Regions from separate parts of the Homo sapiens genome. Here all the other regions are linked to region 3. The links come from fine-mapping of genetic effects on gene expression. A gene starts in region 3. Each other region holds a variant in brackets. All regions are shown on one strand. Distances are between the middles of the regions.

Region 1 (5,153 bases), 36 kb after region 3:
CGTGTCACCGTTTTATTGGTTAATCTTTCAAAAAGAGAAAAGCCTCTGTTTATACAGGCTGAAACAGTCATTTGACCTGTTCTTCAACTCCATCTGGAATTGCTTTGGGGTTAACTTAGCATTTCCCCTAAAGCGCATATGACAGTGGGTTGGGAGGAGCTCGGATGGGGTTTTTGTTCCTCCAGAGCGCTGAGGCCTTATTTCTGAGTGAGGTGGCCTTGGTGCCAGCTAATGCCACTGTTTAGTGTGTGATGAACTAGAAGTAACAGGTTAATTTTGGCCAGTAGACTTGCCAGCTGTGTAAACGGAACCAGTGAAACTATTTCTCAGTGCTGCCTCCCACCCCTGGAAGAGGACATCATGTTATCTACCTGCCCCTGTTGGCTTCCCTTGACCCATCTCTCCCATGCTGTCCCCTCCTCCCTGTGTTACTCATCAGTTCAAATTTAGAATAATTGAATGCACAGAGAAAGTGGCTTGTTCTGAAAACTTCTGACAAGAAATTTCCAGGTGACTTGGTGCTAGATTAATTTTAGCCTCTCTTATGGATTCAAAACTGTTTTGTCAGAAGACTTGAACTAAGACACTTTAGAATTAATTACGGCTGGGAAAAAGAACAATCTAAATGAGGCAGCGAACAAAGATTCCTAAATATGGAGCAAGACAAGTGGCTCTTTATTTCAGTGGGTCACTGGCATGAAAAAATATAGTTGGGGTTACAGGCAGGAATTACTCTTAGAGACATGGGAATTAAATGCAAGGTAAGTACCTTGTTTGGACCCTGAAACTAACAAAGCAACTGTTTAAAAACAAATTTTTTTAAGACATTGGGGAAATTTGCATCTGCTCTGAGTCAAAGCCTGGGATTTGTGTTTGTGAAAAAGCTAATAGAGGAAGCAAGTTGGACACAATTTAAGAAATTGTTGAATCTGGGTGATGTGTATATGGTGTTAAGTATATGATTTTCCACGTCTGTGATGATGAAACATTTTTGTATTGACTTCTTAAGTGTCTTACCTGGCCTTTCTGAGCCCACAGTTGAGTTGCACCTGCAATCCAAAGTGGTTACCCCGTCACGGCTGCCAGACCACAGACACTTTAATTCTTGTTGTGCGGTGTGTTGCTGCCAGCCCAGAGCCAAAAAAGCGGAATACCACCCTGAAGCTTTTGTAAACAATTGTCTTTAGCTTATCCAGAGGAATTGAGTCTGGAGTAAAGACCCAAATATTGACCTAGATAAAGTTGACTCACCAGCCCTCGGAGGATGGAAAGATGGCCTTAAAATAAAACAAACAAAAACCTTTTTTGCTTTATTTTGTAGGACCACTATGAGACCTCAGTCCTTCTATGATGGAAGTCATTCTTGTGCCAGAGGAGTGTGCCATATTCCAATGGCTGAGCCGTTTTGCCCCAAAACGAGAGAGGTGTGTAGTCTTTCTGGAAGGTGTACCAGAATAAATCATGTGGGCTTGGGGTGGCATCTGGCATTTGGTTAATTGGCAGAGCGAGTGGCCCCATACCCTCACTCAAGTTTGCTTTGTATTATGCAAAGTTTTATGAAGAGTTATTTCCTGTTGCTAATAATTTCCTGTTCCTCTGTTACTCTCAGTCATTTTAAGCTGAACCACTCAAAGTTGCAACCTACCTTTTTAATAAGTTTTGATTTTGCTATCTAGATAAAATGATTTAACATAGAATATCACATTACTCAAGAGTATGCAGTCTGGAGCCAGATTACTTAGGATCAAATCTCTGCTCTTCAACAAAGTAGCTGTGTCCAAGAGGACAAATTATTTGACATATGTGGGTTTCAGTTATCTTACTTCTAAAATGAAGATAATTATAGCATGTACCTTATAAGACTGTGTGAGGGATGAGAGAGTTAATACTTAATGAAGTCTCTGAACCATGCCTGTCAGTTATGGAACATCCAATGGCTGGTAACTGCTTTTGTGAATTAAATTACTATTATTGATCTTCTAAAAATGGTCAGATTGGCAGCTGTTGCCTTTGACCTGAGTTTGGCCATTACTGCCCAGCCTTCTGTCTACCATTATAGCCAAATCACAGAACTATGGGGACAGCCCCACAAGGGCCAGTGGTGGTATAAGGGGTGGAATCACAGTTTTAGTTCCCAAGCAACAAAAATGGCTACCATGACTAAGAAGCCTATGGCTTGGTCCACATGTGCTACTTCTCTTATAATCCCAGGTTTGAAAGTCAGGTGCAACTCAAAAGATCAGAAGTATCGTTAGAGATTAACTGCTTCATAAAATCTCCCTTATGAGTTAACTTAGAGAATATAAATACCTAAACACGTTAGTTATTCAGATAATGTTAACACCTGCATATAGAGAGTAGATGATTTCTTTTAGCATTTATGTTTTATCCTACATAATCACAGAAAACCCATTTCCTTATAGTTAACAGCAAGGGCACCTAAACTGAGGACACAGGGTTGGGAGAAATATTTCTAGTCTCAAACAAGAATTTGGAATCTAAAACCGAGTACTGAGGGAAGCCATTTCGGAGATACCACTGCGCATTGATTTTCTCTGACTTCTAGGAAAGTACGTCTTTTACTTGGTTTTTTTTTTTTTTT[A/T]AAAAAGTGGCAGGCGAAGTTTGTATATGTATGTATAGCATGTTTCTGGATAGTTATCCACAGAATGTATCAGAATGCTGCTAGTCTTCCTCTGAAGCACAGATCTGTCCACATAATAGATTTGCTATCCTGGGGGAAATGAAGTATGGATAAAATTCTTGTCCACTTCAAAATGGGGGCAGCTTGGGAAGAAATAGTCTAAGGAGAGAATATGCATGCTCGTATGAATCTGAGGTCAGTTCTCAGGCAAAATACAGTGACTTGGGGAACTAGGAGTAGAGGTAGATGGGGAAAGCACAATGGAGCTGTATAGAGCACATGTAAATGTGGGTCTGTGGTGATAATTTCCAGTAATCCAAGTTAGCCTCCCTTGAAGCCAAATTAATTCAGCTTCATAAAGACTGAGAGAATACTGGGAAAGGCAATTTAAGAAAATGGCAAAATAAGCATTCAGAAAGAAATTTTTAAATATTATCCAAAAACATGAAGAGTAAATAGTGCTGCCACTTGGTAATTTTCACTTTTAACATCCACATGATCTTTCATGTACTGATGGAATAGGACTGTCATGATGAATTGTCAAGTGGCAAGCAAGATACTCAGTGGTTGTACCATATTCTACCATTTATGTTAAAGTATGTATATATACAAAGAAGTAAGTATGTAAATATTTATATACAAATAAAATATTTTTGGAAAGTTAACAAAAAAAGCTGGTAACAGGAAACAGGGAAGATGGCAGATAAGAGACAGGGCTGGCCACCACGGTGGCTCACGCCTGTAATCCCAGCACTTTGGAAGGCCAAGGCAGGCGGATCATGAGGTCAGGAGATCAAGAACATTCTGGCTAACATGGTGAAACCCTGTCTCTACTAAAAATACGAAAAGTTAGCCAGGCATGGTGGCAGGCACCTATAGTCCCAGCTACTTGGGAGGCTGAGGCAGGAGAATCGCTTGAACCTGGGAGGCAGAGCTTGCAGTGAGCCAAGATTGTGCCACTGCACTCCAGCCTGGGTGACAGAGACTCCATGTCAAAAAAAAAAAAAAGTAAAGAAAAGACAGGGCTAACGTGCAGCTTCCACAAGGACGGACAGAATAGCATATGGAGACACTATGATCTTTTGTTCCAAGAACCACTGTAGGAACTTACCGGGAAAACCAAAAGAATTCAAAGATCCTTTGAAAGAAGTGGCACACCACTGCAAATTCTGCAAAACAGGCAAGAAACTGAGTTCCCAAAGTGTGAGTCGGGGAGAACCTACCTCTGAATACACATCCCCACTGGGGAAATCTAAAAATCCAGATCATGGAGGAAGAATTTAACCTTACCTAGAGGTGAAACGGATTTAGGGGGTTATGTGAAATATGAAAGTAGAAGTAGCAACAGGAAGTGCTTTGGATGTACTCCCAGTCTCCAGCTTGAGTCCAGGGAAGCCAGCCCTGACTATATCTCACAGTGGCCCTCAGGTAAGGCAGCCAGTGGAATTGGAGAGTGATGGCAGGGCGAAGGAAGCTCCCAAATGAAATCAGTAGTGGTTTCAGCTGGTCACAAATTTTCTCAGGCAGAGTCCAAGGGACTAATGGGAGCCGCAGCAGATACAAGTGAGTACAGGAGCTGCTGCTGATGGAGTGGGCAGGTGGGAAGGGGTGAGGTCCAAAGGCCATGCTTGCTTTCCCAGTGGGGTAGCTCACAGCCTGGGGCAAGGTCTGAGCAGGGCACTGCAGGAGTGAGACTAGCCTCACCAACTGCATAGTAGCTGGATGAGGCCTCTTGCTGCTGGCTCTCCCCCACTACCCTGGTAAAGTTTATGATACAGCAGAGGCAGTCAAGATCTCCTCTGGAACATAAACCCAGTGGCCTGACAAACCACCCCCATCCCCCAATTTCCCACAGTGTCTGCAGCAAGCCCTGCCCAAGAAGAGTCTGAGCCCAGAACCACCTAACCCTGCCCCAACCTGATGGTATTTCCCTACCCACCCTGGTAGCCAAACACAAAATATTTATTGCCCTGCCTATTGCCTGGGAAACCAAAATAGTTACCTTGGGCATCTTAGGGCAAGCTTAGAGCCCCCTACTCCTTCTGCAGCTGGTGCTCTCTTGAAAGTGCCACCTCCTGGCTGGAGGCCAGTCAACTGAGGCCATTACAGCAACTCATAAAACAATAACCCTGATCCCAGGACGGAAAAGACAACACCTAATTTCACTGCCTGCAACATCCTGGCTAACCAGAGATCCTGAATATGTCCACATGACAACTTCACTGCTAGCATAAGCAGCATTCAAGAGAGCCAGCACATTAAACATATCTACAACCAATGACTCTTGCAGAGTTTACTTCACTTCCCTGCCACATCTACCAGAGCAGGTGCTAGTAGCCACAGCTTGGAGACCTGAAGATGGATCACATCGCAGTACTCATTGCAGACATCCCCCAGCAACAGCCCAGAGCCTGGTGGCCTCAATGGGTGGCTAGACCCAGAAGAGCAATAACAGTCACTGCAGTCCAGCTCTCAGGAAGCCCCATCCCTAGGGGAAAGGGGAGAGCACCAC
Region 2 (5,153 bases), 25 kb before region 3:
AGGAAGGAAGGAAGGAAGGAAAAGAGAAGGAAAAAAGTCAAATTTGAGAAAATAAAGAAAAAGGATAGTGCCTAGACATTTGATTGTGCAGTTTAGGGGATGGATAAGCCAAGGGGAATCCATATAAAGAGCAGATGTGAGAAGAAAAAAAAATTTTGGTTTTAACATGTTATGCTTCTTAGATACACAAATGAATGTACCTACTAGGCAATTGGATATTTAAACCTAGAGCTTAGGAGAAAGGACGGAGGGGGATTATCATCAGCATGAAGATGCTGTGTGAGGCCATGTGCCTGGATGAAATGGTCTAGGGAGTGAGTACAGGCAGTGAAGAAGGCAGGACCAAGCAAGAACATCAAGCTGGAGTGCTCTAATATTGAGAAAGGTAGAGTGTGCAGAGAAAACCAGGATGCAACAGCTGTGTGATGGAACAACAACTAGGAGATAGTGGTATCCAGAAGGGCTCGAGAAGAAAATGCTTCAGGGTGGATGATGATTGTGCCAAATCTGCTGTGAGGCTGCATAAAATGAAGATTGAAAATTAACTGCTGCTCTTAGCAACAGGGAGATTGCTGGTGATTTTGACAGAGCAATTTCAGGAGAGTGATGAGGACTAAATCCCAACTTGAGTGGGCTAAAGAGATGAGAAGTGAGAAAGTGAGAGCGAGTACAGAAAAGTCTCAAGAAACTTGCTATGAAGAAGAGTTGAGGAATGCAACTGGAGCTAGAGTGCAACCAGAAGTCTAGGAAAGGATTGGGTTTGTTTTGCTGAGATGGGGGTCTATTTGTAAGCTGATGGGAATGATCTACAGTAAGAAGGGAGAGTCATGTTCAGGAGAAAAAAGATGATTAGAGGAGTAAAGCCCTGGCACAGGTGGAAGGGGGTGAGAAGCCAGGCTGCAGGAGCTGTTTATCGTCTGTGACCAAAGAGAAGATGGAACACTTGGGTGTGGAGCAAGGAGGTTGGTAGATTTGGTAAAGGGAAAAGGAAGTAGTTCTCTTCTGCTTACTTCTATTTTCTTATGAAATAAAAATCTAGGTTATCAGCTGAGAGTGAAGACAAGGAGGGAATGTTGGAGGTTTAAAAAGGGGGGAAGATATCAAACAGTTGTCTGGACAAAGAACTGACCAGAGAATTCTACTATAAAAAATTTATTGAAGTGCTGAGGACCCACCAGAGATTTGTGGCCAAAATGTAAAGTAAATGTGTGTGTTGTTCTCTCATCCCATTTAGCTGCCTGAATGCAGATATAGATTAAGCAGAGTTAAATATAACCAGGGTTTGGGTTTTGCTAGGCAAATATAATGGAGAGAGAGAAGGACAAAAGAGTTGAGGGTACATAGAGAAGAGTTATAGTGACAAACCATGGAATCTAAGACGAGTAGGGAAAAAGGTAAAGAAAAGCGAGGGAGATGATTAGGACAAAGACTGGGAGTGGGTCCATGGATTACTTGAATGATGTTGTACTTAAGAGAGGAGTCAGAAAGAGATGCTGTGAATATCAGAAAGTGGAATGATGAAAAACTAGATATTGGAGGCTACTTATAATGACAAACTCTAGGGTATGACTAGGGTGAACATGATGGGGTTGGGGAAAGAAAGAGATGTTGGAGTCAGAAGGTCAAATAATTGAAAAGGCTTACTGAGAAACTGATCTAAGTAAGTAGTGCTGAACCCTGCTGCATATTGAGATCATAGGTGTTGTGGGGTTTTTTTTTTTTTTTTTTTTTTTAGAGCAAAACAAAATCTAGTGGCTAAATCCTACCTTGACTAAATTAAATCAGTACCTGTTTGGCTTGGGGGATGAACTGAACACAGGTAGGATTTTTAAAACATCATGAGGTAATAAAAATGTGCAGCCAAATTTGAAAAATAATGACATACATAAATTTTGAAGTCATTAAATATGATGACAGGAGTCATGGTAGAAGGAAATGCAATGAGCCAGCTGCTAAAATCTTCCATCATGAAGTGGAATGGCTTGGAAGATAGGAGATGAAGGGTTTTTGAAAGAAGAAAAACAATGAGAAATAAGGAACATTCCTATCCCCACCTCCAGGACCTGGAAGCATAGGGTGTG[G/A]GAGCAAAAACCACCACCCCCTGCAAAGGCTGAAGGTAAACAGGATATGGGTTGGGTTGGGTGGTGAGCCAGGGCTTAGAGCAAGAAGGTGAAGGTGTTGTTCAAAGAAGAGTTGGAAAATAAAAGAGACTGTGCTTCCCAAGCCCTGAATTCTAGCAGCTGCATTGGAAGGGATTGCAGTTTTGGAAGGAATGGGAGATTGAGTCAGATCAAGGGATATACAGAAACATATGGAGGAGAGTTCCTGTGGTGACCTGGAATGCTTGGACTTCTATGGTGACTGAGGCCAAAAGGAGTATGAAACATGATGATTAGTTCCATCGCCTCTAAAGGAAAGGTGGAAAATTAATTCTAAGTATATCCTCCTTCTTGGGATAGGATCCTTGGGTGGTATGTGATGATGAAGCAGGTTGAGGAGCTAGGTGCTTGAGGTGGTGTGAAAGGAGCCTGGGAGGTTCTGAAGCCCTTTTAAGTTGAGCTGGGGGCAGTGTCAAAAGGGAGATAGGATAATAGCCCCTCTACTGTTAACTGTAAACTGTGAGTCTCCTTTAAAATCTTTGACACAAGCAGTTAAATGGTCTGGTTCTTAAGATTTACCAAATTATGTTGCAATCAATTTTCTGTATCTGTCTGCACTAAGCTTTAAATTGCCCCAGCAGAAATCTTTTCTTATGTATCTTTTCATTTTCAGCACCTAGATTAAGAAACATTTGAGGTACTGAAGTTAACTGCTTAAAGAACCAAAGACAAGGTTTTGTTGTGCTAAAGTGAAGTAACCAAATAAGGCAACATTTTTTGTTAGCATTTCTGGATTGTAATTTTACCAGGCCGGAAGTGTTACTAAATGCACTCATATTTTTAACCACAAACAGGACTTTCCTTTTTTACTAGTTCAAAGAGTTAAAATAGTTTCTGCCAGGAATTGATGCAATAATATATGTGTTTAAGTGTTACATTAAGAAATCAATATTTCTAGCTTGCACTAAGCACATTAAGCATCCCTTAACTTAAAAGTGTGAACAGTGTGTTCGCTTGAGATTAATTTCATAAAACGAAAAGATAAATTAGATCACCTAACCTAAGGAGACAATGAGATGCCAGCATTGTCTTTAGTTCTAAACTCTGCTCTATTTGGGGCATAGATTTTTTTTTCCCTTTCTCAGAGCTTGTTGTTTGGATCAGGGAGATCTAATGCAATAAGGAAAGTAAAGAGACATTCCCTTCAAAAAATCTGCCTTCTGCTCTCAGCTTCTACAGTGAGTAGAATCCTATTGTATTTCTTATAATTATTATCTCATAAAACCAAATACCAGATGTTCAACGTGATGGTCTGCAACTTTTTTTTTTCAATCATTCTTATATGGCATATCACAATAAACCGCAAAGTTAAGAATTCATTTATAAGAAAAAATAGAAGAACAAGATAATTTTATCTGGATGAAACCAGATATAATAAAAAAGATTCAAAGAAAAATTTTCAAATACGTAAAGATTTGAAAAATCACAATTATGTAAATCAAAAAACTACAATGGAAGGGAAAATTATTTTCATCAGATGTAAAAAAAAAAGGGTTCATATCTAAATTTAAGTGTATAAGAAAATAATTCCGCCCAAGCAAGGTGGCTCACACCTTAATCTCCACACTTTGGGAAGCCAACCTGGGAGGATTGCTTGCTCCCAGGAGTTCAAGACCAGCCTTGGCGATGTAGGGAGACCCCATCTCTACAGAAAATTAAAAAATTAGCTAGGTGTGGGTGCACATGCCTGCAATCTCAGCTACTTGGAGGCTGAGGTGGGTGGATTGCCTGAACCCAGGAGATCAAGGCTGCAGTGATTCATGATTGCACCACTGCATTTCAGCTCGGATGACAGAGTGAGACTCTGTCTCAATAAAAAAGAAAAGAAAAGAATTTCAAGAGTTCAGTGGTCAAATGATATGAGCAAGACTTCACACAAGAAGAGATATAAACATTTGTTTATATCTATCAAATAATAATACAAATTCTAGTGATGACATGCTGTAAAATATTCACATAATACGATATTGTAACTTAGGGCAACCATTTTAGAAAGTTTTATTGAAATGTCATTCTTCTAAAAGTTCACATTTTATCTTTAGCAATTATGTTCCTTAAGCAAAAAACAATAGAATTAATATAAATTTTCCAACATGTTCCTTGTGATATTACTTTACAGTTATGAAATATAATTATATTTTGCCTCACTCAAAAACAAGGGTAAATCTGAGTGCCGTCTTGCATATATAATAAAATAATAGTAGGAACAACCTGTACATATTACAACAAAAGTATCGTTATAATACTATAAAAGGTATGTGGCATTCTTGCACTATTGCAGGAAATGATGCAACAACTTGATGGAGCTATTAAAAGTAACACATGAAGTCTATATAGCCAAATCAAAAAGATATTTATGCAGAAAAAAGAAAAAATAAGTTTAAAATTGCATGTGTACAGAGATTACACCCCATAAACACATATAGAATTTGGATTAAGATTAAAAGGAGCTACATTCCTTGGCGATCATCAAAAAGTCAGGAAACAACAGGTGCCGGAGAGGATGTGGAGAAATAGGAACATTTTTACACTGTTGGTGGGACTGTAAACTAGTTCAACCATGGTTGAAGTCAGTGTGGCGATTCCTCAAGGATCTAGAACTAGAAATACCATTTGACCCAGCCATCCCATTACTGGGTATATACCCAAAGGATTATAAATCATGCTGCTATAAAGACACATGCACACATATGTTTACTGCAGCACTATTCACAATAGCAAAGACTTGGAACCAACCCAAATGTCCATCAATGATAGACTGGATTAAGAAAATGTGGCACATATACACCATGGAATACTATGCAGCCATAAAAAAGGATGAGTTCATGTCCTTTGTAGGGACATGGATGAAGCTGGAAACCATCATTCTCAGCAAACTATCGCAAGGACAAAAAACCAAACACTGCATGTTCTCACTCATAGGTGGGAAGTGAACAATGAGAACGCTTGGACACAGGACGGGGAACATCACACACCGGGGCCTGTCATGGGGTG
Region 3 (5,153 bases):
AAGGGAGAAGCTGTTGGAATCCTTATACTGTTTCATAATCAGAATTGTTGTAAGGTGACCTAGTTCTTGATAATTATCTTTAGAAAAGCAAGGGTACAGGTTAACAGAGGGGGATTTATAGGATAAGAACAGAAGGGCAGGGCAAAATCTATGTTCACAAATAGACCGACTCTCCTTGTCTTGTTGACATAGTAATCAAAAAGGGAGACCACTGAAAATTTTTGCGTATTCAAAATTATTGAAAATTTTGTCTTCCTTTTATTTTAGGGCTTGTTAAGAAAAAACATGACCCAAAATTTGGAAATAAGGCAAAAATATTACTGCCTACCTTTTCAAAGATACTGCACTAAAGAAAGCACTGTCCCACAGGACTGCCCAAGGGTTATCCAAGTCTGGGTAGCAAGGGGTCGTCTGATTCAGGCACTACCCTGAGCGGAAAACAATGGCCCAAGACCTCGACCAAACCCAGCTCTCCACCTGTTTTTGTACAGCTTTGAACTGAGAATGCTTTTTTACAATCTTAAGTGGTTGAGAAAATATCAAAAGTAGAATAATATTTTGTCACATGTAAGTTTACATGAAATTCAAACTTTAGAAGAATTTCCTCTTCACAGACATCACATCTTCAAGAGCAAATGCTTGAGCCCTAACCTGCAAGTTATAGTAGAAAAGTCCAGAAGTCCAGCCTGGTCCTCGCCAAGTTTCCAACTCCTATGCCTAGGGGTATTTTATGCTTACAGGATCTAACTTGGTTACAACGTCTAACTTTTAGCAGAGAGGCAGTGCTGAGTAGAAACTGGACTTGTTAACCATATCAAGTCACTTAAGTTGGCTAGGATCCCCTACTTAGGTAGCGGCCATAAAGCCTAGGGCATCCCTGTGCCCTCAATGGTTCACTTCTGAGTGGTGGGCTTCCTGCTCCTCAATAGAGCAATCGGCAGAAAGGCCCCTAGAAAGCTACATTGTCTTCATCCGCGAAGGATTCCCTGTCTCCTATTCCTCAAAGGAGCACCCGGATTCTACTTTCATTCTTCTTTTGCCATTGCATTTTATAACTTAAAAGAAATAGATGATTGTAACAGAAGAAAGAAAACTTTACATTGTGAGAAAATTTAGACCTAAAGCTTATAGTAATGTGAGGACGAAAGTCTATACTGTTTAAGTAAATAGGTTCTATGAGCAGCATCCAGGCTAACATCACACAGTGGTATTTTGAATTAAATTGTACTTGTGTTTTGTTTCCGTGTTTTGCTGCTGTAAGGAAAGAGGAAAGCATCCCCTTTCTCGGCCCTCCTCCCACGTCCAGGCTAATTTGCAGCATTTCTACATCTCAGAGTCCACCCTTAAGATCCTTGCCACCCATTATTTTGTTTCAGAACGCTTAATCCATCAAGGAAGGTTAAATTGGATTACCCCAGTAGGGAAGGGACGGGGGCTGTAAGCATGAGGGATTATCCCTGTAAAGGGCTCGTGGTGTGTGTGTGTGTGCGTCCTGCTAGTGTTGAATGACGGAGACCTGAGTTTGGATTCTGAATCCAGGTGTATTCGATGCCGCTCCGGCGTAGAACGGGTTAAAGATGCCCCCAGCCAGGTAGAGCCAGACTGGGAGTTGTGCAAGGTCTCAACCCCCTAAAAGCGGCCCCTCAAATTGAAGATGAGTAAATCATAGTTCGTAAATCAGAAAGATTATCCAGTACTACGTTACTCTGTTTATTTCCCTTTCGTCATCCCTGAGTCTTGGGTCAAGTCCATCCCAGCTCTGTCCTCCAGGAATCAAGGGAAATACGCAAACCCGCGGTGGGTTCGCAGCCGCAGGAAGGACAAATCTTGCCCCCGCCGCGGCGGCCGCCCCGCGTTAGCTGCCTAAGAGAATCTCCGTGGCCGGCCAGTACCCGCCTTGGTGAGGATTCTCCCTCCCGCGAGAACTTCTGGAATGCCGCCGGGCCAGATTTTGCAGCTGAGGCCTCCGACGCCACTAATATTGGGCCAAGCAGGGAGTGCTGCTCTTCCTTATAAGGTTTTAGCGAAAGTTAAGTAAGCCAATTAAAGTGCAAAACACACAGTCTGGAACAATACAGCGCTCTATAAATGGTCTCCATTATTATCATTATCCGTTAGTTATAACTGGGGATAAAAAAAAAAAAAAAACGACAAAAACCTGGAGAACCGGAAAGGTCTGCAAAAGGGGCGGAACGCGGGAACTTCGATTTGGGGAAGGGGTGGCGGGGGAGATCCCACACAAGCAGCCAATCCAGCTGTCCCGGGGAGGAAGAGGAGGAGTCAAGGCCCGCCCCTGGTCTCCGCACTGCTCACTCCCGCGCAGTGAGGTTGGCACAGCCACCGCTCTGTGGCTCGCTTGGTTCCCTTAGTCCCGAGCGCTCGCCCACTGCAGATTCCTTTCCCGTGCAGACATGGCCTCTGGCACCACCACCACCGCCGTGAAGGTGAGATGAGCCCTCCCAGCCGCAGCGGTTCGCCCTGCCGGATGCCTTCTCGCCCCCGCGCCGGGGGACCGCGCCTCCGGGGGCCATGCGCCCGGCCCGTGCGTCCCTTGCCGCCGCGGGGAGGGACTGGGGCGCGGCACTCGGGACTCACTTGCCGCGCGAGGAGAGGGTACGCTTGCAAATGATCCCCCTGCCGCACCGCCAACACACACACACACACACACACACACACACACACACACACACACACACACACCACCTTTTGGCTTATCTGCACCCGCACCCTGTAGGGCGTAGGCACCCCTTTAGAGAGAGAGGTCGTGGATGGGAGAGGCTGCACCCATGCCACCACCATTCCTGAGAACCACTCTTCTTCCAAGAAAGACACCCGGCTGGAGTCAGGAGGTGTCCGGGCGCCTGCAGCTTCTGTGACCGTCTCCTGGTGCCTTGCGGGACTCCAGCTTCCGCTCTCTGACTCTGCTTGTTGCCTGCGGCCCACGTGGGAGAACTGCTTACTTGCTCTTTTGTATGCTTCCGGCTTCTTTTTCCTCCAAACGTAGGCCTTCTCCGCGCTGAAGTTTTCCCCAGCAGCGTAATACTGTAAGAATTCTGAGACTTTCTTCGAAAAGGAGTACAGGCGTCCGTTTTTAGGGCTGCACTGTTTGGAGGCCTCTGGCTTGAAACTGCTTTGTTTTGCAGCCTTGCAAGTTAGAGTTCAATTTCCTTGTGCCCTAGGCCCTGAGAGGCCTTGATACAAGGGGTCATTGTGCGGTGGGAAGCTTTGTGCTGAGGAGGGCACGAGTTCTGAGAGTAGCAGCTGGCTTCCCTGGGGTTTTAAACACTTCTCTCCTGGTTAGTATTCCGAGAGAGAATTACAGCACGTAAAGAAAAATTGATGATAAAACTTAAGACCTCTTCTAGGCAGTTTATTACTGGCTAAGAATGCGTTCTTGTTTGATTTTTAGAAATTTTTGGCCTATGGGATAGGAAGGTCTGCGATCTTCTCCAAAGCATCTCGATTCCCTACACTCGACTGCAGTTTTCCCGGGAGAAGGCGAATTTCTGCGGTCAGTGTGTAATCAGCCAGATTAGTTTATTACGCCCTTGCAGGTTTAAATGAGCCACTTAGAATGAGAGGAATGGTGAAGGGTGTTGCATCCAGACTTATATATGAAACTTATTTTGTCATTTTGAAAAGAATCTTGCATCCAGCAAATATTTATAGAAGGCCTCTCCCCTGCCTTCATTGTTTGGCGGAAACAAGGCAGAAATGGTTTTCATGAAACTCGTGTGAAGTATGTGACTTCTCTTAGGTGCTCATCTATAAACTGAGAATTTTACTGCAGAATTTGCTAGGAGGGCTAGAATTATATTGTCTATGTTGCACATGGTAGAAGCTTATTAAGTGGTAGTGCTTATAAGTGGGGGAACTGAGATTAATTTTGAATGATCTTTTCCCCAAAAATTATTAAGTTATTGTGTTAGGTATCATTAGGCCACAACTTTTCACCTTATCCTTGCAGGAATACACTTCAAGCGCCATTAAAAATGGAGAAATGGTGTTTAAAACAGTCTTACTTTAATCTGGTTAGCATTCTCCCTGCCACAGGGTTTCCCTTCAAATTAATGCAGTGCATTTAAGTGCAGAATGGGCAATGGGATTCTCAGAGACCTGATGTAAATATTGAATAGTGTGTATTTTTGGTCTTGGCAAGCTTCTGGATATAAAATTAAGAGGTACATATGGTGCTAGGACTGCCTGCTGATTTCTCTTTTAATTTAGAACAGATGACAGCTTTGCCGTAGAGATTCCATGATGCCAGCACCGTATTCCCCAGACTTCTAAGGCAACATTCTGTATAGAAGATGTGAGGTGCCAGTGTCCAGAGCAAAATAGGTTAATAAAAACCACATCCTATTCCCAAATTATAGAATGATGGGGCTGGAGTGTTCCTTCAAGACCATCCATATAGCCACACAAACCCGTTTTGCGGGTGTAAAGTTGAGGCCCAGAAAGGTCAGCTAAGTATCCAGAATTACACAGCTGGACCTAGATAATGACAGAATTGGGCCTAGAGCCTGGCATTCCACCAACTAGATGTGAGGCATTTCTGAAATCTGAAGTGTGGTCTCTGCCCTGTTTTCTTGTGACCTAATGCACAATTAAAATGAGCACTTGATAGAATGTCCATCTTGAAGAGGGAGGCAGAGGGTATGCAGAAAGCAGGCTGCCTCCAGTGCCCACTGCACACCACCCAGGTATAGGTATAGGAGGCACATGTGTGTCTGAACCCCATTGGTGTCACTGGCAGGTCCTTTGAGAGGTTGCTGGATTTAAATACAGTAACATGTAACACACTCAGCCCAGTTCCAGGTACTCCTTTAATGTCAGCCCAAGTACCTCTCTTCTTAAAATAGAGATATTAACGGGGTGGATCTTAAATTCATTCTCAATTTTAGAGGTGCAGTTAACTCATGCAAGTGAAAGATTCCACTGAGTTTTGGATTGGCAGTATATTTGGCATATCTTTCAAATCTAGCCATCTACTGGTGGAATCCTATTCAAAAATATTTATTGAATACCTGCTAGACAATGGGGATGCAGCTTTGAGTAAGCGAGGCCTTTATTTATTTTCTTCAAGTTTATATTCTAGTCAGGGTGGGAAACCAACTGACATGAAAGTGAAACAGCAGTAAGATTCCATTGGG
Region 4 (5,153 bases), 28 kb after region 3:
ATAGAGTGGAATACAAAACTCCATATTCAGGATGATCCAGATGTATAAAGTATTACAGATGATACTGTAAAGTCTGAATTGGGCACTGAGCCTTGGGTTAATCTGTTACTTAAACAGTATGACTATACGCTGTTGCATTTCCCAGATCTTTTACTCACATGTCTTAAATGTAGATGTTTCACATACTGGCTCTTTCAAGAAAGCAGTTGGGTCAGAAGATGGAGACTAGAAAGAAAACAGGTATTGCCATCAGATCTGGTTTCATTCTATCTTAGCCAGGTAACCTTAAGATCTTCTACTATTTTTCTGTTTATGAGACATATGGATAACCTGCCCTCTTAATGTTTCCTTGGAAGTTCAAAGTCTCTAATAAGTGCCTTTTGTGGGATCTTGCATGTGTTAACCTTCTCAGTAACTGAGTGCCATTATTGAGAGTGTGTGCATACTGGCTGGAGGGTCCACTAGTTGACACTACTTTACAACAACAGGAGGAAAGAATCTGTTAAAAGAAGGATCCCTGGCAGGGTGCAGTGGCTCACGCCTGTAATCCCAACATTTTGGGAGGCTGAGGCAGGCAGATCACCTGAGGTCAGGAGTTCGAGACCAGCCTGGTCAACATGGTGAAACCCCGTCTTTACTAAAAATACAAAAAAAAAGTAGCCAGGTGTGGTGAGCACCTGTAATCCCAGCTACTCGGAAGGCTGAGGCAGGAGAATTGCTTGAACCCAGGAGGCAGAGGTTACAGTGAACCGAGATTGCTCCATTGCACTCCAGCCTAGGCAACAAGAGTGAAACTCCATCTCAAAAAAAAAGAAGGATCCCTAAGAGAATATAATTTAGCATGAAATCTCAATTTTTACATTGATTACTTATTTGGGGTGATAACGTTTTGAATATATTAGGTTAGACAAGATTTTAAAGTTAATTTTACCTGTTTCTCTTTTACTTTTTCAGTGACCACTAGAAATTTTAAAACTATGTAGGTGGCTAACATCATATTGCTGTTGGATGCATCTTTTAAGTGCTGCTGCCTTTGATTGAGCTGAGTGGGTTCCAGTTAACCAGGCTTGAGCACATATATCATTCATTATGTGTTTGAACATCTCATAGCAGAAGATGCCTTGCATATATATCATTCATTATGTGTTTGAACATCTCATAGCAGAAGATGCCTTGTGGTTAATGCCCTCTATGTGTTTTACTGATAGCACATTTCTTAGTAAAGTGAATCTTGGTGTATTGAGACGGGCATCTCCTACCTCCACTTGCTGATGGCATCAGATACAAATAGGCTGTGCCATTTTTAGCCTGGGGTTTCCCAGAGTCATACCCACAGCCCCAACTTGTTTAACAGGATTGTAACATCCTGTAAAGCCACCCCGTGGATTATAGAATTCCAGGGCAGCTGGGGCAGGAGCATTGAATCAGGAGGTTTCATCTTGACTCTGTTTGGCCCTGTGCAAATCACTTTACCCACTACACGTTGGTTCTTTCTTCCCAATGGAGGGCTGAATTGCACCATCTCTCTCTCTCATTCTTTTGTTGTTTTTTTTTTTTGTTTGTTTGTTTTTTTGAGACAGTCCCACTCTGTTGCCCAGGCTAGACTGCAGTAATGCAATCTCGGCTCACTGCAAGTGTGAGCCACTGTGCCTGGCCAGGCTCCTTTTCCCTACACTGCCCGTGTATTCTCTCCAGGGACTTACCTAGAACCACACACATTGGCCTATTGCCGTAAGTTTGTCAGCACGTTGTCTCAGAAAAAAAAAAAAATCCTCATCCTAAAGTGTTCTTCAAAGGCTAGCGAGATTGTTTAATAATACGGCTATTCTTATTTTATAGATGGCCAAGCTAAAGCACATCATTTTCTTTTCCTTCAGTGCCAGCATGAGCAGGGCGGGGGGACCAACCTCAGATTTAAGAAAGACATGTGGCTGATTTTTAGGGTTGTTTTTAGAAACATTAGATTTCTTCTCTAATAATGAAATATACTTTTGAAGGACTCTGACAATGCTGGAAGCTCTTTTAAGAAAAATGTCATTCTTATCTGAAAATCTTTTTTTTTCTTCTCTCTCTCATGCTACATTACAGCTGATGAAGTTAAAAAGCCTGGGCATAAGAAAAGGGGAGCCCTGGGTGTGACTGCCCTGGAAAAAGAGGTAGAGAGTGCAGTGGGTTCAAGTATGTTTGGGTATGTGCAGTCAGTCTTTGTGTCTTTCTCATTCAAGTAAATTCCATAGCAATTAAAGTGAAAATAATCATCTTTCATTTGTGAGTAGAGCATCCATAGAAAGCAACATATATCTTGGTCTAGAACTTAAATTCCAAAAGAATGTGTTATATTTTTCATTTTCCCGTTTTTGTTGCACAGGGACGAGTTTCCTGATGCTTCCTTGCCATAGGCCCTGGGCTCTGTGTGTAGTGTTCTTCCCAAACCAAAAATTAAAAATAGGAAAATCAGAATCTATACCAAGAACTTTGTCTAGGAGGCTTGTCTGCAGTAGGTTTCTTCAGTGCCTATGCCTCCTGCTGGATTGTGTTTGATTAATCCATTTCTTTTAACTTGTACAAGGTCCCCATTGTTAGAGCCACAAGTCATTTGGCCACTGAGGGTAAAAGATGGTTAGGAGTGGGATTTGTTCCACTTCTTTGCAGCGATTAAACAGTCAGTT[T/G]GAACTGGGGAAAGTATTTGACCTTTAGTCTGTCCTAAAAGAATGTCATCAGGCTGTTTATACATTAAAAGGCTCTCATAAGATATGTACTCCCAGATTCATAATTTTGGAACTTCTCTCCTATGGTACACACCCTTGTATGTATGCACACCTGGCTCTCACTGAGTCACTTATGGGAAACTGAAGCAAGTTTTTCTATTAATAGGGGAAAAAAGACCTCATAAAAGAGTCAAAGTAAATGAGACTTAGAGAAATGTAGAAGCATGACTATGCATCACTGGGCCTTTGCTTAGTTTTTATTCATCAGCCATGGAGAAGAAAGGCATGACTCTTTCCTGCCTCCCACACCCACCGGACTTGTAAAGCTCGACTTCGATGATGCATTATAAAGTGGTGCACAGGATTGGTTTTTAATGAGATTTTTGCCATTGGAGCAAAGCAAGACTGTTTCCCTGCCAGCTGCTTTATTCAAGTCATGAGGCATTTTGTTGTCTCCTCCTGTACTTGTGGTACATGGGCCCTCCATTTTCTAGCCCAGTTCTTGTTAGATACCTTTGCACATTCATTTGTATGTATGGCAGAACTGATGATATGGCCTTTCTTTCACCCCCAACTACTAACTGTCCATGCCATTAAAGATACATGGACAGGGGATTCCAGCAATTTCTACAGTTGCTCTTCTTTCTCTTTACCATTAATCCTGATGATTGTAGGAAATCAGTACACCATATTTATTATGCAAATCTAAGAAAAACAACTAGATCTATAAACTATTTGAAAAGATGCCCACATTGTATTTTTTTGTTGTTTTTTTAGATAGGATCTTTCTCTGTTGCCCGGGGTAGAGTGCAGTGGCCTGATCGCAGCTCACTGTAGCCTCTACCTCCTGGGCTTAAGCAATCCTCAGCCCGTCTAGTAGCTAGGATTACAGGAATCTGCCACTGTGCTTGGTAATTTTTTTTTTTTAAGGAGATGGGGTCTCACTATGTTGCCCAGGCTGGTTTCAAACTCCTGGCCTCAAGCAGTCTTCCTGCTTTGGCCTCCCCAAAGTGCTGGGATTATAGGCATGAGCCACTGCACCCAGCTACATATTTTTTAGAAAAGGATCAGATGAGTAGGACTTGCTCAACTGCTATCACTGTCAGAAATATCTCAAGGTGAAACTTGCAAACATATCAGTAAGGAGAAGGATGAGATTTCTTTTTTAATAGTCTTCTTTATCAGGAATGTTTTGCAGATATTGATTTTTTTTTTTTTTACAATGAGAAAAATATGACCAAAAACTGAATATTAAAGGAAGCAGAGTGTGATTCCCGGTGCTAAACAGTTTCTATAAAATGTGGCTAATAACATATTGGCCTGTTGTGCCTAAGGCCTGTGTTTGGGTTATGCCTTCTCAAAGAATGCAGTGGAAGAATCTCAGCTTAGAAGTGAGGACATCCAGAATTCTTTCCTGGCTGTGCCGTGAAATTCCTTTGTCACTTAGTGTCCTCATCTGCTAAATGAGGGTGTTGAATTGATTCCTAAAAGTTCTGGTATCCTCCCCTCTTCAGATTATTTCTTCAACTTATTTTCTTGGTAGAACTGGGAGAGGTTCGACTTTGCTTTTGTCACGCATTCTTACTCATCAGGAAAGTCCCGCTATAAACACAGTGCTGAGGGATCAGTTATGTCAGTCTGTTTCCTTCTCCCAGAGACCAGCCCTGCCTTGGGCTTCCCCTAGAACTTTATGTCATAGCATAAAGGCCCGTGTCTGGGCCCTGAGGTTGGGAGTATGCTCTGATGTCAAGTATTTGATCATTCTCTTTCTGCCTCTTGATGACTAGAAAGCGTTTTATGGTAAAGAGTTACGCAAGAAGCCTTTGTTTAGCTCTTTCTCTCATTGCTAAAAATAGTAAGCTGTTTTTAACCCTTACTGTTCTTACTTCTTCTTACTCATTTCCCTCACTCTTTAGCTGAGAATGTCACCTCCACCTTTATAGAGAAGACAGAAACTTAAGCATAAACTCTTCACCTTCCTTCACCTTCCCTTTCCCCAGTTACTTGCGTCCCTGTTCTTTGTCATCCTCTTGTCTGTAGCTGTCCTTGAAGTGGTGTCCACTATTCCCCTGGATGAGGTTCATTCTTACGTTCTGTTCCATAACCTAGTTGTGTTATTAACTTCCCATCATACATCCTTTTATTAAAAATCCTACACTACCAGTTTTTGAGTTCCTATTAGGTGTCACAATCAGTTAATCCCACTTACGGCATACAGCAGTCATTATTCCAGTTTATACTTGAAGAAACTTAGGCCCTTACTATGTTTCTGGCACTGCTTATTATCACAGCTCTAGAAGACATCTTCTATCTACCTTATCCTTCCCTTTTACAAAAGGTGAGAAAACTGAGGCCCAAAGAGGTTGTTGTCACCACCTATGTAGAGTGAGGATTTTTATTTTTGTGCTATTGTTTAGCATGATCTCATGAAATATAATAGAAAAT

Evidence for each region. PIP is the estimated chance that this variant, and not a neighbour inherited with it, causes the effect.
Region 1: its variant is fine-mapped to the expression of MTAP in whole blood (INTERVAL, PIP above 0.99).
Region 2: its variant is fine-mapped to the expression of MTAP in whole blood (INTERVAL, PIP 0.96).
Region 4: its variant is fine-mapped to the expression of MTAP in whole blood (TOPMed, PIP above 0.99).

What each region holds. Positions count from the first base shown.
Region 1 is chr9:21,836,587-21,841,739 of GRCh38, forward strand. It overlaps MTAP (methylthioadenosine phosphorylase), which reads left to right. Exons shown (of 8, transcript NM_002451.4): 5 at 1,322-1,424. Among named protein-coding and RNA genes, the nearest start is that of MTAP, 37 kb to the left of the region's middle. The variant A/T (reference allele first, on the strand shown) is at 2,603.
Region 2 is chr9:21,775,681-21,780,833 of GRCh38, forward strand. No RefSeq gene overlaps it. Among named protein-coding and RNA genes, the nearest start is that of MTAP, 24 kb to the right of the region's middle. The variant G/A (reference allele first, on the strand shown) is at 2,082.
Region 3 is chr9:21,800,338-21,805,490 of GRCh38, forward strand. MTAP (methylthioadenosine phosphorylase) reads left to right here and starts at 2,299. Exons shown (of 8, transcript NM_002451.4): 1 at 2,299-2,444. The coding sequence starts at 2,412. RefSeq lists enhancers at 1,178-1,808, 1,809-2,437, 2,932-3,141, 4,800-4,944, a silencer at 2,482-2,641 and a cis regulatory region at 4,872-4,873.
Region 4 is chr9:21,827,873-21,833,025 of GRCh38, forward strand. All of the region lies in intron 4 of MTAP (methylthioadenosine phosphorylase), which reads left to right. Among named protein-coding and RNA genes, the nearest start is that of MTAP, 28 kb to the left of the region's middle. RefSeq lists enhancers at 4,060-4,369, 4,237-5,153. The variant T/G (reference allele first, on the strand shown) is at 2,670.